Regions from separate parts of the Homo sapiens genome. Here region 1 is linked to region 2. Evidence: fine-mapped expression QTL. A gene starts in region 2. The other region holds a variant in brackets. All regions are shown on one strand. Distances are from middle to middle. Region 1 overlaps BRF1 (BRF1 general transcription factor IIIB subunit). Region 2 holds the start of BRF1 (BRF1 general transcription factor IIIB subunit).

Region 1 (15,427 bases), 32 kb before region 2:
ACACCACCTGGCACGGGAACACACGGCCCGGCCGAAGCTCCGTGTAGAGCAGTAGTGCCCAGCCCCAACCCACCAAGGGCAAGGCCCTGGCAGCACTCAGCATACAGCACTCAGCGGCCGACCAAGCACCCACACAGGAGCCCGGCAGGCAGACTGGGCATCCTCAGGCCCCGCACATGCCTGGACGGGGCTATGACGGATCCTAGCTTGGAATGGGGTCACTCACCCCAGAGCTCGGATGCCCTCAGCACCCCAAGAGCAGGACCCATCAAGACCCAGGGCCTAGGTCATGAGCAGCCCTGCCCTCCCGAACTTCCCAGAGACCACCCTGCTCCTCCGCCTGGAGGTGTGGCACAGAGCAGGTGCTCTGGGAGTCCCTGAATGACTGATGCGGGGTAGGAGACCTGCTGGCTGCCCTTTGTCCAGATACCTCTGACCTCCAGGGAAGAGCCAGTGGGTCATTGCTGGGCCTTGCCCATCCCCTGCACAGTGACTAAATCCCTGAGCCACTGCTGGCTGCCACACCCCACGGTGGGCTCCTGTGTGCAGTACACCCTGAATAATCTAGCACCTCACCGCTGTCATCATGCATGGCCTCTGTGAAGTTCAAGGGTACCCAGGTGCCTTCTCAAAGATCCCTGCTCTGAAGACTGAGCCTCCCACAGAGCTGGGAGCCTGGCTCTGTCCCAGCCACACTGAGGTGGTCTCACGGATAATGCAGCTGCTATCCAGGCAGTCACCTGACGCTCCCAGCCCCTGGCTTTCAAGCACACACATGCAACCAGGCACATGGATGGCCCCAGGAGGAGCTGAGTGGCACGAGTGTAAGGTGCAGTGTCTCAGCTCGGGCCTCCTTCCAATTCTCGCCAATTCTAATAAGCTGTCATAGTCTGGCAGTGCCAGGCCAGGATTGCCTGAGGACAGGAGTTCAAGACCAGCCTGGACAACATAGCAAGACCCCATCTCCATTTAAAAAAAAAAAAAGTGGCTGGACACGGTGGCTCACGCCTGTAATCCCAACACTTTGGGAGGCCGAGGCGGGCAGATGACAACGTCAAGAGTCCGAGACCAGCCTGGCCAATATGGTGAAACCCTATCTCTACTAAAAATACAAGTTAGCCAGGCATGGTGGTGGGCACCTATAATCCCAGCTACTCGGGAGGCTGAGGCAGGAGAATCGCTTGAACCCGGGAGGCAGAGGTTGCAGTGAGCCGAGATGGCACCACTGCACTCCAGCCTGGGCAACAGAGTAAGACTCCATCAAAAAAAAAAAAAAAAAAAAAGTAGGAGCCTAGTGCTCACAGTCTCGCTTGGCAAGGGAAGATAGAGTTTACAGTTCAGTGGCTTCCGAGCCAGCCAGACACGAGGGGCCAAGCTGCCAAGAGAAGAGGAAGCAACTTCAACAAGCGAGCAGGGCACAGTGCACTTAGTCCCTTTACGGCAGCTGCCGCCCCTGGAGCCACAGGCACCAGGCTGAGGCCCGCCAAGCCCAGAAGTCAGCTCTGAAAGGCAAAAGAGCCGAGCAGGAAGTTCTGCAGTCCCGAGGTGCCAGGAAGGGACACCTGGGTCCTGCCACGATCCTTCAGCCGGGAACCAAGACGGACCAGCAGCAACTGGATCAGAGTGAGCTACCTGCGTGCTCTCTGCTTGCTCAAGAAAAGTTAAATTCCCGGCCGGGCGCGATGGCTCACGCCTGTAATCCCAACACTTTGGAAGGGTGAGATGGGCGGACCACGAGGTCAGGAGATCGAGACCATCCTGGCTAACACGGCGAAACCCTGTCTCTACTAAAAATACAAAAAATCAGCCGGATGTGGTGGCGGGCACCTATAGTCCCAGCTACTTGGGAGACTGAGGCAGGAGAATGGCATGAACCTGGGAGGCGGAGCTTGCAGTGAGCAGAGATGGTGCCACTGCATTCCAGCCTGGGCAACAGAGTGAGACTCTGTCTCAAAAAAAAAAAAAAAGAAAAGTTAAATTCCCTCTGGATGGAAAAGTATCCATCATCTCTGTAATATTTTAGACCTAATATTCCAGCGATTCAATGAAAAATTACCAAGCATGACAAAAGACAAGACCAAAGGAACAAAAACAAAAAGAAAATCAAGATAATAAAAACAGAACCACAAATGATTCAACTATTTGGCTTATCAATGACTTTCACCTAACTATGAAGAAATGAAGAATCTTACCAAAGAACTGGACTCTAATAAAAGGAGTCTTAGTGATGGCTCACATCTATAATCCTAGCACGTTGGGAGGCCAAGGCAGGAGAATAGCTTCTGCCCAGGAGTTCAAGACCAGGCTGGGCAACATAGCAAGACACCATTCTCTACAAAAAATAAAGAGCCCAGGAGTTCAAGACCAGCCTGGGCAACACAGTGAGACCTCATCTCTATAAAAAATTGATGGCCAGGCGCGATTGCTCACACCTATAATCCCAGCACTTTGGGAGGCCGAGGTGGGCGGATCACGAGGTCAGGATATCGGGACCATCCTGGCTAACACAGTGAAACACCGTCTCTACTAAAAATACAAAAAAAAATTAGCCGGGCATGGTGGCGGGTGCCTGTAGTCCCAGCTACTCGGGAAGCTGAGGCAGGAGAATGGCATGAACCCGGGAGGCAGAGCATGCAGTGAGCCGAGATTGTGCCACTGAACTCCAGCCTGGGTGACAGAATGAGACTCCATCTCAAAAAAAAAAAAAAAAAAAAAAAAATTGAGTGGGTGTGGTGGCGCATACCTGTAGTCCCAACTACTATGGAGGCTGAGGTGAGAGGATTGCTCGAGCCTGGGAGGTCAAGGCTGCAGTGAGCTGTGACTGCACCACTGCACTCCAGCCTGGGCAACACAGCGATATTCCATCTCTTAAAAAAAAAATTAAGAAGTTAGTAGATGGGTTCAACACCTGATTAGACACAGCAAAAGAAAGGATGAGCAAAAGAGAGAAAGGCTAATATATGGAGTCCCAGAACAGGAAGAGAGAGTGGAGCAGAAACTTTATTTGAAAAGATACTACCCAAGATGTCTCCAACGTAGACAAAAGACATCAAGTCATAAGTTCTACTTATCCTTTTTTTTGTTTTTTTTTTGTTTGTTTGTTTTTTTAGAGACAGGGTCTCACTCTGTCGCCCAGGCTGGAATGCACTGATGCACTGATGTCATCACAGCTCACTGCAGCCTTGACCCCTGGGCTTAAGTGATCCTCCTGCCTCAGCCTCCTGAGTAGCTGGGACTACAGGTGTGCACCACCACACCTGGCTAATTTCTTTTATTAGCCTAGGCTGGTCCTAAACTCCTGGCCTCAAGTGATCCACCCACCTCAGCCTCCCAAAGCGCTGGGATTACACCCATAAACTACCACACCCAGCCAAGTCACAAATCCTTGAACTTCTACAAAAAATAATCTGGATAAACACAAAGAAAACCACATCTAGGTACATCAGAGTCAAACTGCCAAATCCAAACACAAAAATATTTCTTAAAAGCAGGTAGTGGGCCGGGTGCAGTGGTTCACGCCTGTAATCCCAGCACTTTGGGAGGCTAAGGTGGGCAGATCACCTGATGTCAGGAGTTTGAGACCAGCCTGGCCAACATGGTGAAACCCCTCTCTACTAAAAATACAAAAATTAGCTGGGCATGGGCCAGGCATAGTGGCTCACACCTGTAATCCCAGCAGTATTGGGAGGCCGAGGCGGATGGATCACGAGGTCAGGAGATTGAGACCATCCTGGCTAACACAGTGAAACCCCTTCTCTACTAAAAATTCAAAAACAAAATTAGCCAGGTGTGGTGGCGGGCACCTGTATTCCCAGCTACTCGGGAAGCTGAGGCGGGAGAATGGTGTGAACCCGCGAGGCAGAGCTTGTAGTGAGCTGAGATCATGCCACTGCACTCCAGCCTGGGCGACAGAGCAAGACTCCCTCTCAAAAAAAAAAAAAAAAAAAAATTAGGTGGGCATGGTGGCATGCACCTGTAATCCCAGCTACTCGGGAGGCTGAGGCAGGAGAATCACTTGAACCCAGAGGGCAGAGGTTGCAGTGAGCCGAGATGGCACCACTGCACTCCAGCCTGGGTGAGGCAGTGAGACTCTGTCTCAAAAAAAAACAAAACAAACAAAAAACCGTGTGATGTAACGAAACTCACCTAGAGAGAAATTTATAGCCTCGAGTGCTTATGTTAGAAAAAACAGGCCAGATACAATAGCTCACACCTGTAATCCCAACACTTTGGGAGTCCAAGATGAGAAGATAACTGGAACCCAGGAGTTTGAGGCCAGCCTGGGCAATACAGTGAGACCCCATCTCTAGTGCACCTATGGTCCCGGCTACTCGGGATGCTGAGGCGAGAGAGTCGCCTGAGCCAGGGAGTTGGAGGTTGCAACGAGCTAGGGTGGTGCCACAGTGGTACAGCCTGGGAGAACAGAGCAAGACCCTGTTTCTAAAAAATTTTAAAAAATTAATCAGTGTTATTTACGTTAGGTAACAGATTAAGGGGAAAATGTACATGAAAAAATCATACCAATAAATACATTGGTGTTTGATAAAATTCAGTATTTTTCATGACAAAAACTCTTGGAAAATTAGAAAGCAAGGTAACATCCTCAAGCTGATAAAGAGTCCTATACACAAAAGTCTACCGCAGATACATAGAGCGAAGGGCAGAAAACACCCCTCCCAGGACAGGAGAGAGCCAGGCACATCTCCCTCCCCAGGACCATGCTGAGTCCTCGGCATACAAAAGGCAGGACAAACAGATGAGAGGTGTGTGGGTTAGAAAGGAAGAACCAAGGCTGGGCGGGGGGTTCACACCTAGAATCCCAGCACTTTGGGAGACTGAGGGAGGCAGATCACTTGAGCTCAGAAGTTTGAGACCAGCTTGGACAATACAGCAAAACCCCGTCGCCACAAAAAGTACAAAAATTAGCCAGGGGTGGTGGTGTATGCCTGTAGTCCAGCTACACGGGAGGCTGAGGTGGGAGGATCGCTTGAGCCTGGGAGGCAGAAGCTGCAGTGAGCCAAGACTGCGCCACTGCACTCCAGCCTGGGTGATCAAGTGAGATCCTGTCTCATGAAAAAAATGAAAAGAAAGAAGCAGAACTGGCATTATGAGCAGCAGACACAGTTGTGTGCATTAAAGGAGAGACTCCAAAACTCAAACAGTAAGATCGACAATTGAATTTGGTAGGAATGATGTATTAATAATGTCAACATACAAAACTCAGCTAAACCTCTGCTACGCCAGCAACAAGACACCACCGACAAGGGGCCCACATGGGCCCACGCTGGGTGTGCCGGTGTTTCCAGGTCAGCCTTTCGGAAGTCTGAAATGGCAACTTTTTTTTTTTTTTGAGACGGGGCTCACTCTATTGCCTAGGCTGGAGTGTAGTGGTGCGATCATGGCTCACTGCAGCCTCGACCTCCTGGGTTCAAGCGATCCTCCCACCTCAGCCTCCCCAGTAGGTGAGACCACAGGTACACACCACCAGCTGGATTTTTTTTTTTGTTTTCTTTTTCTTTTGTAGAGACGGGGTTTCACCATGTTGCCCAAGCTGGTCTCAAACTCCTGGACTCAAGCAATCCTCCTGCCTGGGCCTCCCAAAGTGATGGGATTTACAGGCGTGAGCCACTGTGCCTGACCTGAAATGCCAACGTCTTCATGCCTAATGATGTGTGCACCATTTGATTCCCTCATCAGCCATCCTAATACCTTCTTCTGACCACTTAAACTGTTATAAATGCCCTGTCCTTGAGAAGGCAGCAGAGGGAGAGGAGCAGGAACAAGGGGGCCTGGTGGCAGAAGGAGGTGCTGGCCAGAACAGGGGGGCAGAGAAGTGTGGGCTCTGAAAGCCCATCCCAGACCCCAGAATGGAATAAGCTGAATGCACATGGCCCCTGCTGACCTGAACGGACGGTTCTGCAGCCTGAGAGAGGAGCTGGGTCTGAAGGGAGTGTGGCGGCTGGCGGCAGAGGCCTTGCTCCCACGCGTGGCCAGGCACGCCATGGAGGCTGAGGCTGGCAGGCCATGGAAGCTGGGCATGCTCTTTGCAGACCTACGTGGGGACAGGTGATGGCACCATCCACAGTGCTGGCCCCAGGGCTCTGACGCCCTCTAGGGCTCACCAGCCTGTCACCATCCCAAGATGCCCTCTCACATGCAGGCCTAGGGCAGCCTGGCTGGACAGGAACAAATGTCAAAGACCCACAAACCAGCTGTGGGCAAAAGCTGCAATAACAAGTCGAGACACACAGCCAGGAAAAGCACACTGGCCACAAACTACCTGCTCGACAATGGCAGAGGTGCTCATTCCAGCTGAGTCTCTGCCCGGCATGTCCAGGTCCCGTGTCTCAGCCCTGCTGCCCACGCAGCCTCCCTGGGCTGGGAGCCAGGAGCAGACTCAGGCCTAGGGTCAGCCGGGCCTTGCCAGACTCAGTGGGACTCAGCAGCACCCCGTTCCTCCTCCAGGAATCCGGGACTGGCTGTGTCAGCCACCAGGCTACGGGGCCAAGAGAGGAGGTGTGTGTGCACAGCCCCCGGCACTTTCGGGGTGATAGTGGACACACCTGAGGATCGGGCAACAATGAAGGGTGGGCAGAAGGAGGAATAAGCTTGGATGTTCTTAAATCAAGCCCTTGTTCCTTCTGAGAGAGGATTTCTTGTATCCAGCCCTGGGCTCAGGGCACTGGTCCCACCCATGGGCTGGACGATACGATAGGAGGATCCTGGGGGGCCTCTCCTGGGGTGGGGGCCATGCACCCCACAACGTAAGCTCACTGCACAGGACCCTCCACGTCCTGCTGACGGCAGGGTGGAGGTGGGGTGGTGGGTGCTGTTGCGCCCTGGCTAAAGGTGGCGAGTCCAGAAGGTGACGGGAGCTGTGCAGGCAGCAGGGCTGGGCCAAGCAGCCCTGTCTCGGAGAAGAGAGCCTGGCTGCACACACCCTCTCCTGGGTGGATTTTCTGTGGAAGGGAAGTGGGTGGAGCTATTGAGGAAACTGAGGCAGCACATGAGCCCAGCCAGCCAGCTGGGGCTGCAGGAGGCGAGGACAGTGGCCAGAGCCAATGCAGGTCAGCAGGGAGGGAGAAGGCACAGGGGCAGGAGAAAACAAGGAGGGCGGTGAGAGACGGAGACGTGTCCAGGATGGGTCTGGGGGCTCTGGCTGGCAGGCCTAGGGCACGGTGCTGCCCGCAACCTGAAGGGAGGGCAGAGCGGGACATGCTACACCTGGCCTGACCCACTTCCCTCTAAAGTGCCGGCAAAGCAGGGGTGGGCTGGGAAGTGAGGGCTACAGCTACCCGAGACCAGCCCGAAGCATCCTCTGAGGATGCTGAAGGGAGCCCCACCAGGCCACCAGCAGCCAGAGGGGATAGAGTGCGGCCTCCCGTGAGCACAGTCCTGTTCCAAGCTGTCTTGTCCTTAGCAGCTTTATAAGGTACAAGTTTGTGCCACAAACCTGCCTGTTCACAGTGCACCGGGCAGTGGGTTTTCGTAAATCCCCAGAGCTGAGCAACCACCACCAGGATCTAATTTTAGAATGCGTGGGGGACACGGGGTGGCTTCCTGGATGCTGCCACTGTGAGCACTGTGCGTGAGCCTCGGTGGGGACACAGGTACTCTTTTCCCTTGGGCACACACTTAGTAGGAGGATCGCTGGAGCGTGTGGGAACTTTGTGGCTAAAGGTGGTCCTGCCAGACTCAGAGGCAGCCCCGGCAGTGCCACAGGACTGCTCTCCGTCCTGCCTGTCATCACCCCATGAAGGCCCATGTCCCAGGGCATCTGTCCCCCCCACAGGAGGCCCAGTGAGGCAGCAGCATGGACGTGGTTCCACCCCACCTTGCTGACGCTGGGGTCCCAGTGCCGGCCTGCACCCTAGGCCCTGCTCCACAGCAGTCCCCACACAGCTCCTACAAACACAAGGGAGGCAGGGCCATGGGCTGACCCTGGGCTCTGCTCAGCTTCTCGCTCAGGACCTTGGTCTGCTTCTAAGAGAGCAGGATCGGAGCAGGCCTCTCAGTGGGACCCCAGGGTGGAGCCGGGGCAAGCAGACAGCAGGCGGGGCGGGCAGGGACGCGGGCGTGGGCTCTGTCTCTCGCCCTGCAGTGGGCTGCCTGGGCACTCTGCATCATCCCTGTCCCTAAAGGCACACGTGTGCTTTAAACACTTTTACGCAGAAATGACAAATTTCAAAATGTTGAAAGGACTTTTTTTTTTTTTTTTTGAGACGGAGTCTCACTCTGTAGCCCAGGCTGGAGTGCAGTGGCGCGATCTCGGCTCACTGCAAGCTCCGCCTCCCGGGTTCCCGCCATTCTCCTGCCTCAGCCTCCCGAGTAGCTGGGACTACAGGAGCCTGCCACCACGCCCGGCTAATTTTTTTTGTATTTTTAGTACAGACGGGGTTTCATGGTGTTAGACAGGATGGTCTCGATCTCCTGACCTCGTGATCCGCCCACCTAGGCCTCCCAAAGTGCTGGGATTACAGGCGTGAGCCACCATGCCCAGCCCAAATTTCAAAATGTTAAAAGGACATTTTCAGGGTTGGATGCAGTGGCTCATGCCTATAATCCCAGCACTTTGGGAGGCCAGGGCGGGTGGATCACTTGAGGCCAGGAGTTTGAGACCAGCCTGGCCAACATGGGGAAACCCCATCTCTACTAAAAATACAAAAAAATTAGCCAGGTATGGTGGTGCACACCTGTAATCCCAGCTACTCGAGAGGCTAAGGCACAAGAATTGCTTGAACCTGGGAGGCAGAGGTTGCAGTAAGCTGAGATACTACCACTGCACTCCAGCCTGGGTGACAGAGCAAGACCCTGTCTGGAAAAAAAAAAAAAAAGTAACATTTTAATGAAAGATCCTGATACTGAGGGTTGCCTGGCCAGAGGCACCGTCAGCAGGCTACCAGCTCGTCATCTCCAGGAGCCCTCCCTGCACCCCACTCAAAAGAGAAGCA[G/A]GCCACCAGGATCACCTGGCACCCAGGACACCCCTCGAGGGGGACCAACCAGAAAAACAGACCAAGACAGAAAAGAGCTCAAGGTGAGAAGATGCCACACTCAGGAAGACGGGAGATTATAAAAAAGATTCGGAAAAGACCCAGAGCTCTTAGAGATGAAAAACATGAAAGAAATGAAACAGCCTGCTGGAAGCTAAAGTTCAGGTGCTGTCCCAAAGCAAAAAGATAGCCACGTGCAAAAAAGGATGAGATAACACATGGGTTCAGTGTGGCAGGCAGAGTAACAGAGAAGAAGGGAGACACATCTAACGACGAATTCAACAGAAGCTCAGGACAGGAAGCTGTCAGAGAGCAAAGGCCTGATGGGCTCACACTGCCGTGAGATTTCTGAACGTGGAGATTAGAGGCAAGGAGCTGAAGCCCCGCAGCTGCACAGCAAGGGCCAGGAGCCAGAGGGCCACAGAACTGCCCAGTGAGAATGCTGGAGGCAAGGCGACGGCAGGGGCGCAGGCTGGGAGGCAGACATGTGGCCGGGCACGCCACGCCCACCAGACACAGGGCAGGGAGGGGGACCACCTTCAGAGGGGCGCAGCTCGGAAAAGGTCCCTCTCCCAGGGAGCCATTGCAGGAGGCACCTCACAAGATGAGGAGGGTGTGGACCAGGAAGCGGGGAGTCCCCAGAGAGCAGGGAAAAGATGCAGGTGCACAGCAGGTGTGGACAGCACAGCACAGAGCAGAGGAGGCTGGAAGGCTCTGGGCTCCCTGTCAAGAGGCCGAAGGCAGCTCCTGACCCATGTGTGTGTCTGCAGATGGCAGCAGTGGGCACAGGACCAGATGCACAGAGACCAGTGCAAGAGAACACCAGACACTGGATCTCCACGCAAGGCCAAGCTGCACACCGCTGAGGGTCGGCAGCCTCCCCGCCCACCGCCTGCAGTCACGGTGTCCACGCACAAGGCCAAGCTGCACACCGCTGAGGGTCGGCGGCCTCCCCGCCCACCGCCTGCAGTCACGGTGTCCACGCACAAGGCCAAGCTGCACACCGCTGAGGGTCGGCGGCCTCCCCGCCCACCGCCTGCAGTCACGGTGTCCACGCACAAGGCCAAGCTGCACACCGCTGAGGGTCGGCGGCCTCCCCGCCCACCGCCTGCAGTCACGGTGTCCACGCACAAGGCCAAGCTGCACACCGCTGAGGGTCGGGGGCCTCCTCGCCCACCGCCTGCGGTCACGGTGTCCACACACAAGGCCAAGCTGCACACCGCTGAGGGTCGGCGGCCTCCCCACCCACGGCCTGCAGTCACGGTATCCACGCACAAGGCCGAGCTGCACACCGCTGAGGGTCGGCGGCCTCCCCACCCATCGCCCACAGTCACGGTGTCCACAGCTGCAGGCACTCGGTGTACGCCTGGCTGCAGCCCACTCAGCAACAGCACCCCACCTGCTCAGGCCAGAGGGCGGCCTGAACCACAGGGGACGTGGAGACAGCACCCAAGGCGCAGTAGGTCCACAAGTGGGGAGAATCCAGGGCATGATTCTCAGGCACCGACAGAACCCTCGCTCTGCATGCCCAAGGGCTGTGCGAGGAAGGCAGGTGCCCAGCTCCCCAGTTCTTCGATCCAGTAAAAGGAGACCCCAAATTCAGAAAGCCCTGGATCAACTGAAACAGTTCTTCCAGTAAGGTGTTTTTCTATTAAAGACAAACACCAAGTTACTGCAACTACCAAGTCCCAATATTCGAGGGGAGCCAACTAAGCATCAAGATGGGGCCCTCTGGGAGGCTCTCAAACCAAAGGATACGCGGCGTGCCCTCCGTACGGCAGACCAGGTAGAGGCAGGCAGCAATCACGTGGGCCATCTTCCGGCCGCGGGTCAGGTGCCTGCTCACGGCCATCTTGAAGAAGTTGAAGGCGGTGTCCAGGCAGTGCTGGTTCAGCTGCAGCTGGTTCCCCAGGTGGTGGATGTGGCGCCTCCCTAGGACACAGCACGAGGCAGCTCTTAGCCAAATGTTCCCACAGAACATGAAAAGTATCACACGGCCACAGCAGCAACTTTAAGAATATAGATTTGTGCTTTTCCTTGTAAGTTTCTGAGCTCACTTTTTATATGTGGGTTCCAATCACTTTTTATTTAAGGACACTGAAATGTGAATTTTCTGTGATCTCCATGTGCCATGAGATCCTGTTCTACCTGTTTCCCTTCTTTAGGCTCTGAGTGGCGTGTGCGGTGTGGCTGAATGTGCCTCTCTCCAGGGCTCTGAGGTGCGGCGTGTCTGGCAAGGGCTTGGTTTGGGCTGGCTGGCAGGTGCTATGCCCCTGACTGCCCTGGGCTACAGTGGGAATGCCCCTTTTCCTACAGCCACATGCCCCAGCGCCACCGCCTTCCCCAACCGCACAGAGTCTGGGTCAGCCCACCCGTCCCTTCTCAGCAGGGCCCATTCTGCTCAGCCCTGCGCCCGCCAGCCTCTCCTCTAAGAGCCAGCCACCCGGCCTGAGAAAAAGCCAGGCTAGCGCCATCCCCTGCACCTGCCCAGAGGGAGGGCCATGGTGTAGGGAAAAGGAAGAGAGGTCAGACTGTTACTGTGTCTATGCAGAAAGGGAAGACATAAGAGACTCCATTTTGACCTGTGCCCTGAACAACTGCTTTGCCCTGAGGTGTTAATCTGTAACTCTGCCCCAGCCACTTTGCCCCAACCTGGAGCTCACAGAAACCTGTGCTGTATGGAATCAAGGTTTCAGGGATCTAGGGCTGTGCAGGACGTGCCTTGTTAACAAAGTGTTCACAGGCAGTATGCTTGGTAAAAGTCATCGCCATTCTCCAGTCTCGATGAACCAGGGGCACAATACACTGCGGAAAGCTGCAGGGACCTCTGCCCTGGAAAGCCGGGTATTGTCCACGGTTTCTCCCCATGTGATAGTCTGAAATATGGCCTCGTGGGATGAGAAAGACCTGACCGTCCCCCAGCCCGACACCCGTGAAGGGTCTGTGCTGAGGTGGATTGGTAAAAGAGGAAGGCCTCTTGCAGTTGAGATACAGGAAGGCCTCTGTCTCCTGCCTGCCCCTGGGAACTGAATGTCTCGATATAAAACCCGATTGTACACTTGTTCAATTCTGAGATAGGAGAAAAACCGCCCTATGGCGGGAGATTAGACACGTTGGTAGCAATACTGCCTTGTTATTCTTTACTCCGCTGAGATGTTTGGGCGGAGAGAAACATAAATCTGGCCTATGTGCACATCCAGGCATAGTACCTTCCCTTGAACTTAATTATGACACAGATTATTTGGTTCACATGTTTTCTTGCTGACCTTCTCCCCACTATCACCCTGCTCTCCTGCCGCATTCTTCTTGCTGAGATAGTGAAAATAATAATCAATAAAAACTGAGGGAACTCAGAGACCGGTGCCGGTGCAGGTCCTTGGTATGCTGAGTGCCGGTCCCCTGGCCCCACTGTTCTTTCTCTATACTTTGTCTCTGTGTCATTTCTTTTCTCAGTCTCTCGTCCCACCTGACGAGATATACCCACAGGTGTGGAGGGGCAGGCCACCCCTTCACCATGGTAAGGGCATGCCCAGCAGACCGGAGGCCACTGCGCCCTCCTAGGGGCTGCGAGGTGCTGGAGGTGGCCAGGACGGCAACATCCGAGCACACGCGCCTCCCTGGAGCAAGACCCTCCCAAAGCTGCGGGCCACATGATGGCATCAGGAGGGAAATGGCAAAGCTGCCCTGCAGGCAGGAGGAACCTTGGGAAACAAATGTCAATGCAGAGTACAGGCCAACCTCACTGCCCCACTCTGTCTGCAGAGCACAGGCTGTGTGGGGAGCACCTGGGCCAACCTCACTGCCCCCACTTCTGTCTGCAGAGCACAGGCTGTGTGGGGAGCACCTGAGCCAACTTTACTGCCCCCACTTCTGTCTGCACAGTGGGCGTCGTGGGCAGGCAGAGTCCTTGCTCCAGGCAATTAGCCCCATGGGGTACCCAGAGGACATGTGTGGTGGGTCACGGCTCGATGCAGAGGAATGCTGCCGCCATGGAGATTCCAGTTCCCACTGCATCCTCTGGCACCCAAACCCACAGTCCTCCTGCAAAGACTACCTGAGGCGGCCTCCATCCCCATATAAAGTCAAAAACTGACCTCCCAGATTTATTTGATAAGGGCACATGAGCTGGAGAAAGTGAGGGCTGATGTTTTGCTCACGCCAAACTTCACTAATGATGACCAGCAGCCAGAGGTGGGCAGCTGCTGAGCCTGCATCCCAAGGAAGCCGGTGGCCAGGGTACACAGTCTGGCAGGTCCAGGTCAAGCCTCACACTGCCAGGCCCCTGGCAGTCAGCAGCATCACATGGAGCCCCCAGCCCGGCTGTGGCCCTGCCACCTTGAGCACCTAAGGCCACCTGCCTAGAGCTCATACAGCTCTGAGGCCTGCAGTCCAGCTGAGCTGACGTGGAAGGCTGGTCACTGTCCCCAGAGCTGAGGCCTGGGCCAAGCCAAGACCCCAAAAGAATGGACAGAAAGGGCATCGTGCCAGCTGCCACCTGCACATGTGCAGCACCAGCCAGACACACCAGCACAGACCGTCCCCGCGGCCCAGCAAGGCCCAGAGGGAAACAGAGTCAGCTGACAGGGGACCCGCTGAAGCTACGGCTCCTTACCTACCAGCTCTCTGCTGTATGTTTGAAAATTCTGTAATAAAAGGTAAGAGAGAGGTACTCTCTGAGGCCACACACTTGAGGCTGGGACTCGATCCCAAGCCCCGACCCCACAGGCACCAGCTCGTGTTCCCAGCATGCAGGGCTGCTATGGTCAGAATGTCTGACTCCTAAAATTCCTATGTTGAAATCCTATCCCCTACGGGGATGGTATTAAGATGCAGGGCCTTTGCGGGAGACTAGGTCAGGAGGCAGAGCACTAATGATGAGCTCAGTGCCCTTAAAAACCGGACCCCAGAGAACTAGCCCAGCTCTTCTACCACGTGAGGCCACAGTGAGAAGGAGCTGAGAGGCGGCCCTCACTAGAGAGCTGGGGAGGAGGCCACAGTGAGAAGGAGCTGAGAGGGGGCCCTCACTAGAGAGCTGGGGAGGAGGCCACAGTGAGAAGGAGCTGAGAGGCGGCCCTCACTAGAGAGCTGGGGAGGAGGCCACAGTGAGAAGGAGCTGAGAGGGGGCCCTCACTAGAGAGCTGGGGAGGAGGCCACAGTGAGAAGGAGCCGAGAGGCGGCCCTCACTAGAGAGCTGGGGAGGAGGCCACAGTGAGAAGGAGCCGAGAGGCGGCCCTCACTAGAGAGCTGGGGAGGAGGCCACAGTGAGAAGGAGCCGAGAGGGGGCCCTCACTAGAGAGCTGGGGAGGAGGCCACAGTGAGAAGGAGCCGAGAGGCGGCCCTCACTAGAGAGCTGGGGAGGAGGCCACAGTGAGAAGGAGCCGAGAGGCGGCCCTCACTAGAGAGCTGGGGAGGAGGCCACAGTGAGAAGGAGCTGAGAGGGGGCCCTCACTAGAGAGCTGGGGAGGAGGCCACAGTGAGAAGGAGCCGAGAGGCGGCCCTCACTAGAGAGCTGGGGAGGAGGCCACAGTGAGAAGGAGCCGAGAGGGGGCCCTCACTAGAGAGCTGGGGAGGAGGCCACAGTGAGAAGGAGCCGAGAGGCGGCCCTCACTAGAGAGCTGGGGAGGAGGCCACAGTGAGAAGGAGCCGAGAGGGGGCCCTCACTAGAGAGCTGGGGAGGAGGCCACAGTGAGAAGGAGCTGAGAGGCGGCCCTCACTAGAGAGCTGGGGAGGAGGCCACAGTGAGAAGGAGCCGAGAGGCGGCCCTCACTAGAGAGCTGGGGAGGAGGCCACAGTGAGAAGGAGCTGAGAGGCGGCCCTCACTAGAGAGCTGGGGAGGAGGCCACAGTGAGAAGGAGCCGAGAGGCGGCCCTCACTAGAGAGCTGGGGAGGAGGCCACAGTGAGAAGGAGCCGAGAGGCGGCCCTCACTAGAGAGCTGGGGAGGAGGCCACAGTGAGAAGGAGCCGAGAGGGGGCCCTCACTAGGGAGCTGGGGAGGAGGCCACAGTGAGAAGGAGCTGAGAGGGGGCCCTCACTAGAGAGCTGGGGAGGAGGCCACAGTGAGAAGGAGCCGAGAGGCGGCCCTCACTAGAGAGCTGGGGAGGAGGCCACAGTGAGAAGGAGCCGAGAGGCGGCCCTCACTAGAGAGCTGGGGAGGAGGCCACAGTGAGAAGGAGCCGAGAGGGGGCCCTCACTAGGGAGCTGGGGAGGAGGCCACAGTGAGAAGGAGCTGAGAGGGGGCCCTCACTAGAGAGCTGGGGAGGAGGCCACAGTGAGAAGGAGCTGAGAGGGGGCCCTCACTAGAGAGCTGGGGAGGAGGCCACAGTGAGAAGGAGCCGAGAGGCGGCCCTCACTAGAGAGCTGGGGAGGAGGCCACAGTGAGAAGGAGCTGAGAGGGGGCCCTCACTAGAGAGCTGGGGAGGAGGCCACAGTGAGAAGGA
Region 2 (15,427 bases):
ACACAGTGCAGGACACTGATGTGGGCTCACAGGGAAGCCCCGCCTTGCCTCAGTGGAGCAGACGGCCTCCTCAGGGCACTGCCAACGGCCCCCAACTCCACCGTCTGCCTGGCCCCTCCAGCCACGCTGAGCCTCAGTCCTCACCCACCCTTCTCTCTGCACAGTCTCTGCTCGGGTGCCCCGGGACGCTGGAGCACCAGTGTGGTTTCCCCCGTGGGGCCTGGCTTCCAAGGTCAGGACCCTCTGGGGACTCTCCTGAGGCCTCTGGTCACCTGCCCTGATGCCTTAGTTAAATATTCCAGAGTAAACTGCGAAGCTGTATCAGGCTTAGTTCTCAATTAATAGGCAAAACACCTAGGAAAGACAGTGGCCTTGGGACTAGAAAACGACAGCTCAGAGAGAAAGCTCAGCTTTCAAGATGAAGCTGGAGGAAGGGGCGGCTGGGGCCTACTTGTGTGCCAGGGAAACTGAGAAGCCACCAAGGTTTCCAGCCCCCTGTGATCACCACTGTGACGAGGGAGGAAGGATGCCAAGTGGGCACCTAGAGAGCCTGCCTGGGAGACAGAGGGGCTGCCCAGAGCAACAGATCCCCTCTCTCCTCCCCACTCTCGGCCCAGGCACCACCTGCGCCGGTCCCCAGGGGCTAAGAACCCGCCGCCTCGCAGCACTTCCCCCAGGACCACCACAGTTGGTTGCTGGGCCTGCGCCTCCCTCCAGAGAGTGTGCCTGGGCTCAGAGGCGTCTTGGGGCCACCTGACAGCGCTGGCTCTGAGCTTGTTCTGACAGCACCCGGGTGACAGACTTCCAGCTCTGCACTGCTCCACACCACCATCCTCCCCCGGCAGGGCACAGTGAGGGCAGTGCGCTGTCACCAGGCCCGGATGCACTTAACACTGTGCCTGCCCGGGAAACCCTGCGTCTGCTGCCATGACAACTTGCTTTCATTACTGTTGTTATCATCCCAACAGACATCCAAGTCTTGGCAACTGTGACACAGCTGCAAACTCTGTGCCCAGCAGTCCTAGGAAGATACCCAGGGAGTATGAGCATGGAAGACGATGGGGAGGGAAGAGCAGGAGAGAAAACTCAATGAAGCCCAAGCCAGTTCTTAGAAAAGATCAAAAACACGGATCAACTTCTAGCAAGAGAGACAAAGGGAAAAAAAGACACAAAACACCAACATCTGAAAGGAAAAAGGAGGCCACTGTGGACCCCGCAGATATCAAAAGGATAAGGGAATGCTTCGAACAACTCTCTGGGCAAATTCAACAACTAGGTCAAGTGGACCAATTCCTCAACACAAGCGGCTAATTCACCCCAGGTGAAACACAGCATCTTAAATATAACTAGAACCTCAGTGATGAAAGAAGCCGAAACCACAGTGCAGAATCTTCTGAGAAAGAAAGCTTTGGGACCAGATGGCTACGCTGGTGAATTCTACCAAACATTTCAGAAAGAAAGAACACCAACTCTACATAATGTCTTCCAGAAAATAGAAGAGGAAACGTTTCCCAACCCATTCCATAAGGAGCAGAACCCTGATACCCAAGACAAGGACGTTACAGGAAAAACTACAGGCCAATATCCCACGCAAGCATCAGCAGGAACCCTCAACAGAACATCCGGCGCTGAGCAAAGCAGCTCATGCCGCTAATCCCAGCACTCTGGGAGGCCAAGGTGGGAGGATGCCTTGAGGTCAGAAGTTCGAGACCAGCCTGAGCAGCAAAGCAAGACCACATCTCTACAAAAAAAAAAAAAAAAAAAAAAAAATTGGCGTTGGCTCACACCTGTCATCCTAGAACTTTGAGAGGCCAAGACGGGAGAATTACTTGAGCCCAGGAGTTCCAGACGAGCCTGGTCAACATGGCAAAACCCCATCTCTACAAGAAAAATACAAAAATTAGCTGGGTATAGTAGGGCGCACCTGTAGTACCAGCAACTCAGGAGGCTGAGCTGGGAGGGTCACTGGAGCCCAGGGGGTTACGACTGCAGTAAGCCATGACCACTGCACTCCAGCCAGGGTGACTGAGCAAGACCCTAGACCCTGTCTCCCCAACCAAAAAAAAATTTTTTTAATTAGCTGGGCATGGTAGTGCATGCCCGTAGTCCTAGCTACTCTGGAGTCTCAGGTGGAAGGATCTCTTGAACCCAGAAGTTCCAGGCTGCAGTGACCTGTGATCACACCACTGCACTCCAGTCTGGGCAACAGTGAGACTTTGTCCCAGAAAAAAAAAAAAAAGCTGGGTGCGGTGGCTCACGCCTGTAATCCCAGAACTTTCAGGGGCCAAGGCAGGTGTATCACTTGAGATTAGAAGTTCAAGACCAGCCTCACCAACATGGTGAAACCCCATCTCTACTACAAATACAAAAACCAGCCGGGTATGGTAGTGGGCTCCTATGTAATCCCAGCTACTCAGGAGGCTGAGGCAGGAGAATCGCTTGAACCCAGGAGGGGGAGGTTGCAGTGAGCCCAGATTGCGCCACTGCACTCCAGCCTGGGCAACAGAGCGACACTCTATCTCAAAAAAAAAAAAAAAAAAAAAACTCAAGGAGTGTATTAAAAACTCTTAGGGGCCAGGTGTGGTGGCTCACACCTGTAATCCCAGCACTTTGGGAGGCCAAGGCGGGTGGATCGCCTGGCCAACATGGCAAAACCCCATCTCTACTAAAAATACAAAAACTGCGGCCGGGTGCAACAGCTCACACCTGTAATCCCAGGACTTTGGGAGGCCGAGGTGGGCGGATCACGAGGTCAGGAGATTGAGACCATCCATGTAACCCCGCCTCTGCTAAAAATACAAAAAATTAGCCGGGCGTGGTGCTGGGCGCCTGTAATCCCAGCTACTTGGGAGGCTCAGGCAGGAGAATGGCATGAACCTGGGAGGCAGAGCTTACAGTGAGCCGAGATTGTGCCACTGGACTCCAGCCTGGGTGACAGAGCAAGACGCCGTCTCAAAAAAAAAAACAAAAAACTTAGCTGGGTGCGGTGGCGGGTGCCTGTGATCCCAGCTACTTGGGAGGCTGAGGCAGGAGAATCTCTTGAACCTGGGAGGCGGAGATTGCAGTGAGCCAAGATGGTGCCACTGCACTCCAGCCTGGGCAACAAGAGCAAGACACCAGCTCAAAAAAAAAGAAAAAAAAAAAAAAACCTCTTAGAACAAGTAAGTTTAGCAAAGCCATAGGAAACAGGACAACACACAGAAATCAACCATATTTATATAAACAAGCAATGAAGAGTTGAAAACTAAATTAAAAAAATTCCACTTATAATAACTCCTAATAGAGCTTAGGTACACATCTAAAAAATGTCCAGAGGGCCAGGCACGGCAGCTCATGCCTATAATTCCAGCACTTTGAGAGGCTGAAGTGGGGGGGGATCACTTGAGGTCAGGAGTTCGAGACCAGCCTGGCCAACATGGTGAAACCCTGTCTCTACTAAAAATACAAAAATTAGCCAGGCGTGGTGGTGGGCTCCTGTAATCACAGCTACTTGGGAGGCTGAGGCACGAGAATCGCTTGAACCCAAGAGGCAGAGGTTGCAGTGAGCCGAGGTTGCACCACTGCACTCCAGCCTGAGTGACAGAGCGAGACTCCATCTCAAAAAAAAAGTCCAGAAGCTGTATGCTGAAAACTACCCAACACTGACAGACTATATCAAAGAAAATCTAAATGAATGCAAACATACACTGTGTTCCATGGACTACAAGATTCAACATAGAAAAAATGTCAGCTGGGCACAGTGGCTCCCACCTGTAATCCCAGCACTTTGGGAGGCCGAAGAGGGCGGATCACGAGGTCAGGAGTTCGAGACCAGCCTGGCCAATGTGGTGAAACCCCGTCTCTACTAAAAAATATACAAAAATTAGCTGGGTGTGGTGGCGTGTGCCTGCAGTCCCAGCTACTCAGAAGGCTGAGGCAGCAGAATCACTTGAACTCGGGAGGCGGAGGGTGCAGTGAGCTCAGATCGCGCCACTGCACTTCAGCGTGGGTGACAGGGTGAGACTCTGTCTCAAAAAAAGAGAAAGAAAGAAAAAATGTCAGCTCTCCCTAAATATATCAAGAGGTTTAATGCAATTCCAATGAAAACCCCACCAGGACTTTTGTACAGGTTGAACATCCCAAATCCAAAAATCTGAGATTATAAATGCTCCAAAACGGCCCGGTGCAGTGGCTCACGCTGGTAAACCCAGCACTTTGGGAGGCTGAGGCAGGTGGATCACGAGGTCAGGAGATCGAAACCATCCCGGCTAACACGGTGAAACCCCGTCTCTACTAAAAATACAAAAAATTAGCCGGGCGTGGTGGCGGTCGCCTGTAGTCCCAGCTACTTGGGAGGCTGAGGCAGGAGAATGGCGTGAAGCCAGGAGGCGGAGCTTGCAGTGAGCCGAGATAGTGCCACTGCACTCCAGCATGGGCAGCAAAGCGAGACTCCGTCTCAAGAAAAAAATAAAATAAAAAATAAATGCTCCAAAACATGAAACTTTTTGAGTATCAACACGATGCTCAAAGGAAATGCTCACTGGAGCATCTCAGATTTCAGATTTTTCGATTAGGGATGCTTAACCAGTAATTATAATGCAGATATTCCAAAATCAGAAAACTCTGGTATCCAAAACACTTCTGGTCCCAAGCATTTCAGGTAAGAATATGTGACCTGCAGAGATGCACAAACTTACTCTAAAATTAAAAAGAGAAAGGGAAATTAATAGCCACAACAACTTTGAAAAGGAAGAACAAAGGTTGAGGGACTCACAATATCTGATTTCAGGACAATATAACAGGTATAGTAAAAAAGCGTGTGATGCTGACAAAGGAAAACGGCACCTGATCAACAGGGCAGGACACAAGGCCCAGAGACAGACCTGCACGGACGGGGCCCAGTGAGCACAGCCGAGGGAGCAAAGGCCTTCAGTCTTTCAACAAACGGTGTTGAAACAAGGGGACCTCCAGATAAACAATGAGCCTCAGCCTACAAAGCACACCTTATACAAAACATAGATGGACCACAGATTTAGGCCAGGTGCGGTGGCTCGCGCCTGTAATCCCAGCACTTTGGGAGGCTGAGGCAGGCGGATCACTTGAGGTCAGGTGTTCAAGACCAGCCTGACGAACAGGGTGAAACCCTGTCTCTACTAAAAATACAAAAATTAGCCAAGTGAGGTGGCGCACGCCTGTAATCCCAGGTACTTGGGAGGCTGAGGCACGAGAATCACTTGAACCTGGGAGGCAGAGGTTGCAGTGAAACGAGATTGTGCCACTGCACTCCAGCCTGGGCCACAGAGCAAGATTCTGTCTCAAAAAAAAAAAAAAAGTTAAAACTTCTGCTTTGAGGCCGTGCGCAGTGGCTCACGCCTGTAATCCCAGCACTTTGGGAGGCCGAGGTAGGCGGATCACGAGGTCAGGAGATCGAGACCATCCTGGCTATCACAGTGAAACCCCGTCTCCACTAAAAAATACAAAAAAAATTAGCCGGGCATGGTAGTGGGCTCCTGTAGTCCCAGCTACTCGGGAGGCTGAGGCAGGAGAATGGCGTGAGCCTGGGAGGCAGAGCTTGCAGTGAGCCGAGATCGAGCCACTGCACTCCAGCCTGGGCAACAGAGCAAGACTCCATCTCAAAAGAAAAAAAACTTCTGCTTTGAAAATCACATATACAACAAAGGGCTTGTAACTACAATCCACAAAGAACTCCCAAAACTCAACAATAAGAAAACAACCCAAATAAAAAATGAGAGTCAGGGTGTGGTGGCTCACGCTGTAATCCCAGCAATTCGGGAGGCCAAGGCTGGAGTATCACTTGAGCCCAGGAGTTTGAGACCAGCCTGGGCAACATAGAGACCTTGTCTCTACTAAAAATAAAATAAAATAAATGATCACAGCATGGTGGCATGCACCTGTAGTCTCAGCTACTCAGGAGGTTGAGGCAGGAGAATTGCCTGAGCCTAGGAGTTCAAGGCTGCAGAGAGCCATGACTGGGCCATTGCACACCAGCCTGGGCCACAGAGTGAGATCCTGTCTCGAGATAAATAAAAAAATAAGACTTGAGCACACATTTCAACAAAGAGGATTCGGGCATGGCAAATAAGCACCCTAATAAGGTTGAACATCACTAGCCAGTAGAGAAATACAGAATACCACTATGATGAGATGCCACACACCTGTTAGAACAACCGAAATAAAAACATCGACAACACCAAGTGCTGGTGAAGATGTGGGGCAACTGGTGAGAATGCATAATGGCACAGCCACATCACAAAACAGTTCATGACAGTTTCCCATAGAGTTACACATACAGCTAAGTTCCCCAGAGAAATGAAAACGTATGTTCACACAGAGAGCTGCAAATGAATCCTTTTAGCAGCTCTATTCACAACCACCTGAAACTGGCCACAGTCCAGCTCCTTCCACAGGCTGGGGTCCATCCCCAGCCCGCAATACTGCCCATCACTGAAACGTCCCCTCCGAGGCCTGCAGCAGCCTGAGTGGCCCTAGGGCATCCGCCCGGTAACCACCAAGGCCAAGGGCAGCAGCAATCGGATTCTAAGTACCAGACATTGCTGAAAACAAAACTGCAGGCACAGAGAGTGACAGTGAGGGGCAGCTTGAGGGGCCTTCTGGGCTCCCCAGGCTCTCTTCAACCCTCCCTGTGCTGGCTGCCCTGGCCCACGCGTGTGTCGAGGAAGTCCACGCACGCCACGGGGGTCCACAGGCGCGCGAAGAAGGTCTACATTCTCGCCAAGGGGATCCACACTCGCGCCCAGACGGCGCAGAACCGCGCGCCCCGACAGAGCGTGCGGTACCGAGGCGCTGGTCCCGGCCGCGCCGTCACCGCCTCCAGCCCGCCTAAGCCGCACCGAGAAATCCGCGCAGCGCCAGCCCGCGGGACTCACCGTCCAGGGACACGAACTGGCCCACGGCCGAGGAGCCGCCGCCGCTGCTCTCCACGAACTGCACCTCGGACACGATGATGTTGTCCTCCAGCACTGAGCCGCAGGCGGTGCACACCGCGTCCCCGCGCGCCGCGTCCAGCTCGATGTCCGTGCCGCCGCAACCGCGGCACACGCGGCCCGTCATGCCGGCGACCGCGCGGGCAGCGCCCGGAGCCTCCCAAGACTCTCAAGCCACCCGAGCCTCCGGAGCAGCCCGCGCCGCCCGCCCAGGCCCAGCCGCCCAGGCCTCGCCGCTCTCGCGAGGCCCCGCTCCAGCCGATTCGCAGCCGCAGATTCGCCGCGCGCGCCCGGGCCGCGCCGCCCGCAACGGCCGCGCCCGCGGGATGGGACAGGCACCGGGACCACGGCGGGGACGCGAGGACTGGAGCCGCGACCTCCCCACTGCGAGCGAGCTGGCCTCCCTTGCGGCGCGCCGGCGTCGGAGGGGCGACCTGCGGGGGCTGGGCTTCGGCGGAACCCGAGCGGGGCCTACCGGTGAGCGCAGCCGAGGACTGGCGCTTGGGGGCGGGGCCACGGCGGTGAGCGCAGCCCGGGACTGGAGTTTGGGGCGGGGCCTCGTCGGTGGGCGACACCGGGGACTAGAGCTAAGGGTGGGGCCTCGCGGTGAGTGCAGCCGGGGACGGGACCCAAGGCTGGCGACGGGACCCAAGGCTGGCGACGCGACCTAAGGCAGTGGGCGGGCCCTTGGCGATGAACGCAGTCGGGGACTAAAGCTGGACGCGGGGCAGAGGAGGGTCCTCCTCGGATAGTGAGCGCGGTCTCCAGCGGCGAGCGAGGCCTGGGGTGAGGACTCAGCCGGATGCGGGGCTGAGGGTGGGGGGCGGGGCCTCCCGTGGAGAGACGGCCTGCGAAGGGAACTGGAGCTGTGGGCGGGGGAAGGGGGCGGAGCCTGGGTCTGGACCCGAACTGTGGGCGGGGCTTGAGGCGAGGGGGCCGAGCGTGGTGGGCGGGGCCTTGGCTCCTGAGGGCGACCTGGGACCCAACCCCGGGCTCTGGGAGTGGTGGGCGGGGCCAGGGCAGCTGCGCTGGGGGGCCTGGCCGCAGAGGTGGAGACACCCGCCAGGGGCCACCCTGCCCCGCCCTCCGCATTTGCGGCGTCCGCCGCTCCGCTCGCCCAGGTTCCAGAGCCTCCCCGTGCGCCCCGCTATTCTCCGTTTTCTGTTCCCCTAAAATTCCCACTTTCTAGCAGTCATTCGTGGCCACCTGTGGTTACCCGTGAGTCACCTCGCTGTGCCCCCTGCCCAGAGCGGGAACCCTGGCTGCGCACGCCCTCAAATATCTGCAGGTGCTGTTCACAATCGCCATAGGGCCGGTGACATACCCAGGAATGAGCCTAAAAAGAAATGCGTAACCAGGCGTAGTGGCTCACGCTTGTAATCCCAGCACTTTGGGAGGCCAAGGCAGGCGGATCACGTAAGGTGAGGAGTTCGAGACCAGCCTGGCCAACATGGCGAAACCCCGTCTCCACTAAAAATACAAAAAAATTAGCCAGGCTTGGTGGTGGGCGCCTGTAATCCCAGCTACTCGCGAGTCTGAGACAGGAGAACCACTTGAACCTGAGAGGTGGAGGTTGCAGTGAGCTGAGATCCCGCCATTGCACTCCAGCCTGGGTGACGGGTGACAAGAGTGAAACTCTGTCTCAAAAAAAAAAAAGAGAAAAAAGGAAATGCGGAAGACCCCACCCTCTTTTTTTTCTTTCTTTTTTTTTTTTTTTTGAGACGGAGTCTCTGCTCTGTTGCCCAGGCTGGAGTGCAGTGGTGAGATATCGGCTCACTGCAACCTCTGCCTCCTGGGTTTAAGCGATTCTCCTCTCTCAGCCTCCCGAGTAGCTGGGATTACAGGTATGCACCACCACACCTGGCTAATTTTGTATTTTTAGTAGAGACGGGGTTTCTCCATGTTGGTCAGGCCAGTCTTGAACTCCCGACCTCAGGTGATCCGCCCACTTCAGCCTCCCAAAGTGCTGGGATTACAGGCATGAGCCACCGTGCATGGCCCTATTTCATTAATTTCTGCTCTCATTTTTGTTAGATCCTTCTTTCCACTTAATTTGGTTCAATGTGTTCCCTTTTTCTAGTTTCTTCATTTTTTAAAAATTGAGATAGTGTCTCATTCTGTCACCCAAGGTGGAGTGCAGTAGCATAATCAAGCCTCACTGCAGACTCTACCTCCTGGGCTCAGGTGATCCTCCCACCTCAGCCTCCCGAGTAGCTGGAACTACAGGCATGTGCCACCACACCCAGATAATATTTTTTGTAGAGATGGGTTTTTGCCTCATTTGCCCAGGCTGGTCTGGAACTCCTGGGCTCAAGTGAGCCACCCGCCTTGTCTTCCCAAAGTGCTGGGATTACAGGCATGAGCCACTGCTCCCCGCCCTGTCCTCCCAAAGTGCTGGGATTACAGGCATGAGCCACTGCTCCCCGCCCTTTCTCTAGTTCTTTTTTTTTTTTGAGATAGAGAACACCCAGGCTGGAGTTCAGTGGTGCCATCTCAGCTCACTGCAACTTCCACCTCCCAGGTTCAAGTGATTCTGTCACTTCAGCCTCCCAAGTAGCTGGAATTACAGGCATGTGCCACCACGCCCAGCTAATTTTTGTATTTTTAGTAGAGATGGGGTTTCACCATGTTGGCTAGGCTGGTCCCAAACTCCTGACCTCAAGTGATCCACCTGTCTTGGTCTCCCAAAGTGTTGAGATTCTACACGTGAGCCAATGCACCCGGCCCCTTTTTCTAGTTTTTGTTTTGTTTTGTTTTTTGAGGTGGAGTCTCGCTCTGTCACCCAGGCTGGAATGCAGTGGTGCGATCTTGGCTCACTGTAACCTCCACCTCCCGGGTTCATGCCATTCTCCTGCCTCAGCCTCCCAAGTAGCTGGGACTACAGGTGCCCACCACCATGCCTGGCTAATTTTTTGTATTTTTAGTAGAGACAGGGTTTCACTGTGTTAGCCAGGATGGTCTTGATCTCCTGACCTCGTGATCCACCTGTCTCGCCCTCCCAAAGTGCTGGGACTATGGGCGTGAGCCATCGCGCCTGGCCTTTTCCTAGTTTTTTAAGGTGAAAGATGAAATCATTGATTTAAGATCTCTTTTCCTTTATAAATAGGCATTTTATTGCTATAATTCTCCCTGTAATTACCACTTTAGCTGAATCCTGCACATTTCAATGTGCTGTGTTTTCATTTTCATTCAGCTCAAGATTGTCTCCACTCTTAATTTCCTCCCGGATCCAAGGGTTATTAGGAAGTGTATTGTTTTGTTTCTAAATGTTGGGGATTTTTCAAATATGTATTATTGATCTCTATGCAAAATGCTCTCTGTCCATGATGACATTTCATCCTTATGGCAACACTAGCTTGCAGACACTGTTGTCTCCATTTTATGGAGGGAGCCCTTGAGGATGTGAGGGGTGACAGCCCCAAATCTCATAGCCAGTAGGTAACAAAGCCAGAATCCAATCTGAGGCCATGTGGCCACTGGATCCTTGCTCTCACCTGACAGACTAGAGGGGTTATTTCGTGTGCTCCCTCACCAAAGCCTGTGAGGTGCCTGCAGGTGCAAGGGGCAGCATGCCTCCCAGGCCACAGCGGTGCAGGACAGTCAGGCAGTACAGGACAGTCAGGCTGTACAGGACAGGATTGGCCAGAGGAGCAGAGGGTGGGGAAGACCACACCCACAACGGTAAGAGGTTTAAAGGGTGTGGTTTCAGCCAGGCTCGGTGGCTCAGGACTGTAATCCCAGCACTTTGGGAGGCTGAGGAGGGCAGATCACGAGGTCAAGAGATCAAGACCGTCCTGGCCAACATGGTGAAACCCATCTTTCCAAAAAATACAAAAATTAGCAGGTGTGATGGTGGGCGCCTGTAGTTCCAGCTACTCGGGAGGCTGAGGCAGGAGAATTGCTTGAACCTGGGAGGCGGGAGTTGTGGTGAGGCGAGATGGCGTCATTGCACTTCAGCCTGGACGACAAGAGTGAAACTCCATCTCACAATAAATAAAATAAAATAAAATAAAATATAAAAAAGGGTGAGGCTCTACTGGGCAATGGCCCAAGGTGCGTGCTGCCAGAACTAAGCCTTTGCTCAGATGGGCTGCAGAGGAGGGGTGCTATGGTCTGAATGTGCATTGTATCAGTCTGTTTTCACACTGCTGATAAAGACATACGTGAGACTGGGCGATTAACAAACAAAAGAGGTTTATTGGACCTGTAGTTCCACGTGGCTGCAGAGGCCTCACAATCATGGAGGAAGGCAAGGAGGAGCAAGTCACGTCTTACGTGGATGGCAGCAGGGAGAGAGAGAGCTTCTGCAGGGAAACTCCCTCTTATAAAACCGTCAGATCTCGTGAGACTTATTCGCAATCACAAGAACAGCACGGGAAAGACCTGCCCCCATGATTCAATTCCCTCCCACCAGGTCCCTCCACAATATGTGGGAATTCAAGATGAGATCTGGGTGGGTACACAGAGCCAAATCATATCATGTGTGTTCCCCCAAAGTCCATATGTTGACGTCCTTGCCCCAAGGCGATGGTTTTAGAGAGGTGGGGCCTTTGGGAGATGAGGTCATGAGGGCTGCTTCCCTCATGAGCGGGATTAATGCCCTCAGAAAAGTGGCTGGCTGGGCACAGTGGCTCACATCTGTGATCTCAGCACTTTGGGAGGCTGAGGAGGGAGGATTGCTTGAGTCCAGGAGTTTGAGACCAGCCTAAGCAACATGGCAAAACCCTGACTCTACAAAAACTACAAAAACTTAGCCGGTTGTGGTAGCATGTGTCTGTAGTCCCAGCTACTTGGGAGGCTGAGGTAGGAGGATTGCTTGAGCCCAGAAAGTTGAGGCTGCAGTGAGCTGAGATCACACCACTCCACTCCAGCCTGGGCGACAGATTGAGAACCTGTCTCAAAGAAAAAAGAAACAAGAAAAAAGAAAAAACGTGGCTGGAGGGAGCTTGTCTGCTGCTTCCCCCATGTGAGGATGCAGGAAGAGGGCACTGTCTATGAACCAGGAAGTGGCCCTCACCAGACACGGCATCTGCCAGCACCGTCCTGTGAAATGAATAGTGGTTTATAAGCCACTTGGACTGTGGTGGTTTGCCATTGCAGTGTGAACCAACTGAGGCAGGGAGTAACGCTCCCCACGTGATGTGAAGGCATAAAGAATGGAGCCAGGTTAGAGGGAGAATGCGGAGAACTGCCCTGGGGACCGGTTAGGTGCCCCATGCTGCAAGCGCCCCAGGAAGCTTGGAAACATTTAGGACTGACTGACAAGCTCAAAGAGTCAAGCAAGGGCGGCCAAGGGGCACCAGTGCCCTCAGAGCACCCACACTGGGCACCCAGCACCAGCTTCCTGTGCCCAGGGTCCTCTGTACTCCTCATTCAGCCCTGCAAGGCAGGACCCTCACTCGCACCGCGCCAAAGAGGACGCTGGAAACGTGCAGTGATCTCCGCTCTGGCTGTAAACAGGGAGAGGCTGTGGGCTTGCCCCTAGACCTGACTCCAGCACACAGCAGCAGAGCGGGGCCCAGGCTGGGGGTGTGGGGCAGGAACATTCCTTCATGGGGGCCCCAGAGAGCTGGAAAGTAATGTAGGTGTTGCACTGAAATGAGAGAATTGCTTTAATCTGAACTGAACGTGCTCGTAACACTTAGACCAGGAAGGATTTCCTTTTCTCAGGGCCTGAGAAAAATGACCTGACCAGCAGGGTTAGAGTTTTGAAGGACACGCCTAGGCACCTGCAAACTTCCCCTCCTGGAGGCTTTCTTCATTCATGGTGTCTTTTGTTTTTGGGTTTGTTTTGTTTTGTTTTGTTTTGTTTTGTTTTTGAGACACAGTCTTGCTCTGTCCCCCAGGCTGGAGTGCAGCGGCGCCATCTCGACTCAGTGCAACCTCTGCCTCCCAGGTTCAAGCGATTCTCCTGCCTCAGCCTCCCGATTAGCTGGGATTACAGGTGCATGCCACCATGCCCGGCTAATTTTTTGTATTTTTAGTAGAGATGGGGTTTCACCATGTTGGCCAGGATGGCCTCGATCTCCTGACCTCGTGATCTGCCCACCTCAACCTCCCAAAGTGCTGGGATTATAGGCATGAGCCACCACACCTGGCCTGTTTTTTGGGGGTTTTTTTTGAGACTGAGTCTCGCTGTGTCGCCCAGGCTGTAGTGCAATGGCACGATCTTGATGTACCGCAATCTCTACCTCCCGGGTTCAAGCAATTCTCCTGCCTCAGCCTCCCAAGTAGCTAGGATTACAGGCACCTGCCACTGCGCCCAGCTAATTTTTGTATTTTTAGTAGAGTCAGGGTTCCATCATGTTGGCCAGGCTCGTCTTGAATTCCTGACCTCAAATGATCCATCTGCCTTGGCCTCCCAAAGTGCTGGGATTACAGGCGTGAGCCACCGTGCCAAGCCCCATCGTGTTCTCATCTGTGGTGCTTTGACATCTTGGGGTCTCGTGGACCTAGAGAGGGACTCCCCTCCCAGGGTTAGCTAATTCCTAGAGACAGCTGACCACTTGCCTCTGAGTATGCCTTATTTACTTTATTTTTTCTTTTTTTCTTTTTTTTTTGAGGCAGGGTCTCACTCTGTCACCCAGGCTGGAGTGCAGTGGTATGATCATAGCTCACTGTCGTCTCAAACTGCTGGGCTCAAGAGATCCTTTGGCCCCAGCCTCCCAAAGTACTGAGATCCCAGGCTTGAGCCACCGTGCAGGCTGAGCATACCTTTGATATGCAGAGCAACCATCATGAGTCCCACCTGCCTCCTTTCATCAGGCTCCTGCATTCCTGAACACTAGCCCCCTGCCCTAAATCACCCCAAGGCCAGGTACCAGCTAGCTAGATACCACCCCCAAGCCCAGAGCCCACTGAAATGACCCAGTTCTAATTCTGCTCAGCTTGCCTCCTCTGCCTTGCCTGGAAAATGGCAATAAAGGCTCTTGCCCACCCTTTCCCTTCACCCCCTCCCTGTCCTGACTGGCCCTGGGTGCTTCCCCACGTGCCCCTCCTCCTGGGAACTGTGAGTAATAAACTCCTCTTTCAAAGGCGGTTGTCTCTGTGTCTGTCATCTTATCACATTTGATCAAAATAACTCCTGGGTACTCAATAGCCCTGTCCCCCCATGCAGCAGTCAGCAGGGGAAATGAGAAAGCAAGCTTCTATGGCCTTCTCACCTTCTCACCTGCTGCCTGGCCTTGGGCAAGTGCTTCAATCTCTCTAGGTTTCTACTTCCTCATCTGCATAACAGGGATAAGAATAGCCCACCCTAGCACTGCGGAGTATGATGGAGGACATGTGTCTGGTAGACAGACTGCTCAGAAGGCAAGTCCCTGTTCCTGTCTGTTCTCCGCAACTCGAGTGAGACTTGGTGAGGCTCCAGTCCACCTTCCACCACAGAAGTCAAGGGCCAGGCCAGGACAGTGGCTCACGCCTGTCATCCCAGCACTTTGGGAGGCAGAGGTGGGAGGATAGCTTGAGCCCAGGAGTTCGAGACCAGCCTGGGCAACAAAGTGAGATCCCTGTCTCTACAAAAAATTTAAAAATTAGCTGTGCGTGGTGGTGCGTGCCTCTAGTTCAGCTACTTGGGAGGCTGAGGCAGGAGAATCGCTTGAACCCAGGTGACTGAGGCTGCAGTGAGTTATGATCACACCACAGCACTCCAGCCTGGACCATAGAGTGAGACTCTGTCCCCCCCAAAAAAACAATTAGGCCGGGCACAGTGGCTCACACCTGTTATCCCAGCACTTTGGGAGGCTGAGGTGAGAGGATTGATTGAGCCCAGGTGTTTGAGACCAGCCTGGGAAATATGGCAAAACAGCATCTCTAACAAAAATACAAAAATTAGCCAGGTGTGGTGGTACATGCCTGTGGTCCCAGCTACTCGGGAGGCTGAAGAGGGAGGATTGCCTGAGCCCAGGAGACAGAAGTTGCAGTGAGCTGAGATGGCACCATTGTACTCCAGCCTGGGCACGACAGAGGCAGATTCTGTCTTTTTTTTTTTTTTTTTTTGAGATGGAGTCTTGCTCTGTCGTCCGGGCTGGAGTGCAGTGGTGCAATCTTGGCTCACTGCAACCTCCGCCTCCTGGGTTCAAGTGATTCTCCTGCCTCAGCCTTCTGAGTAGCTGGGATTACAGGTATGAGCCACTGTGCCCAGCTAAGTTTTGCAGTTTTAGTAGAGACAGGGTTTCACCATGTTGGCCAGGCTGGTCTGGAACTCCTGACTTCATGATCCGCCTGCCTCAGCCCCCCAAAGTGCTGGGATTACAGGCATGAGCCACTGTGCCCAGCCATGACTTTGTCTCTAAATAAATAAATAATTTTTTAAAACCCTTAGGGACCCAGCACAGTGGTTCACACTTGTAATCCCAGCACTTTGAGAGGCTGAGGCAGGAGGATGGTTTGAGTCCAGGAGATCTGGCCTACAGTGAGCCATGATGGCACCACTGCACTCCAGCCTGGTTGACAGAGCAAGACCCTGTCAAGAAAACAAAAGA

What was found. PIP is the estimated chance that this variant, and not a neighbour inherited with it, causes the effect. A credible set is the group of variants that fine-mapping cannot tell apart.
Region 1: its variant is the best candidate, but not a certain one, in a credible set for the expression of BRF1 in whole blood (TOPMed, PIP 0.87).

Annotation. Positions count from the first base shown.
Region 1 is chr14:105,261,973-105,277,399 of GRCh38, forward strand. BRF1 (BRF1 general transcription factor IIIB subunit) reads right to left here. Exons shown (of 18, transcript NM_001519.4): 3 at 10,749-10,922. Among named protein-coding and RNA genes, the nearest start is that of BTBD6, 21 kb to the left of the region's middle. RefSeq lists an enhancer at 12,228-13,131. The variant G/A (reference allele first, on the strand shown) is at 8,952.
Region 2 is chr14:105,293,559-105,308,985 of GRCh38, forward strand. It overlaps BRF1 (BRF1 general transcription factor IIIB subunit), which reads right to left and starts at 7,443. Exons shown (of 18, transcript NM_001519.4): 1 at 6,888-7,443. The coding sequence starts at 7,071. It also overlaps the pseudogene LOC124903409 and a transcript of PACS2 not described here. RefSeq lists enhancers at 575-704, 6,185-6,264 and silencers at 7,115-7,524, 7,755-8,124.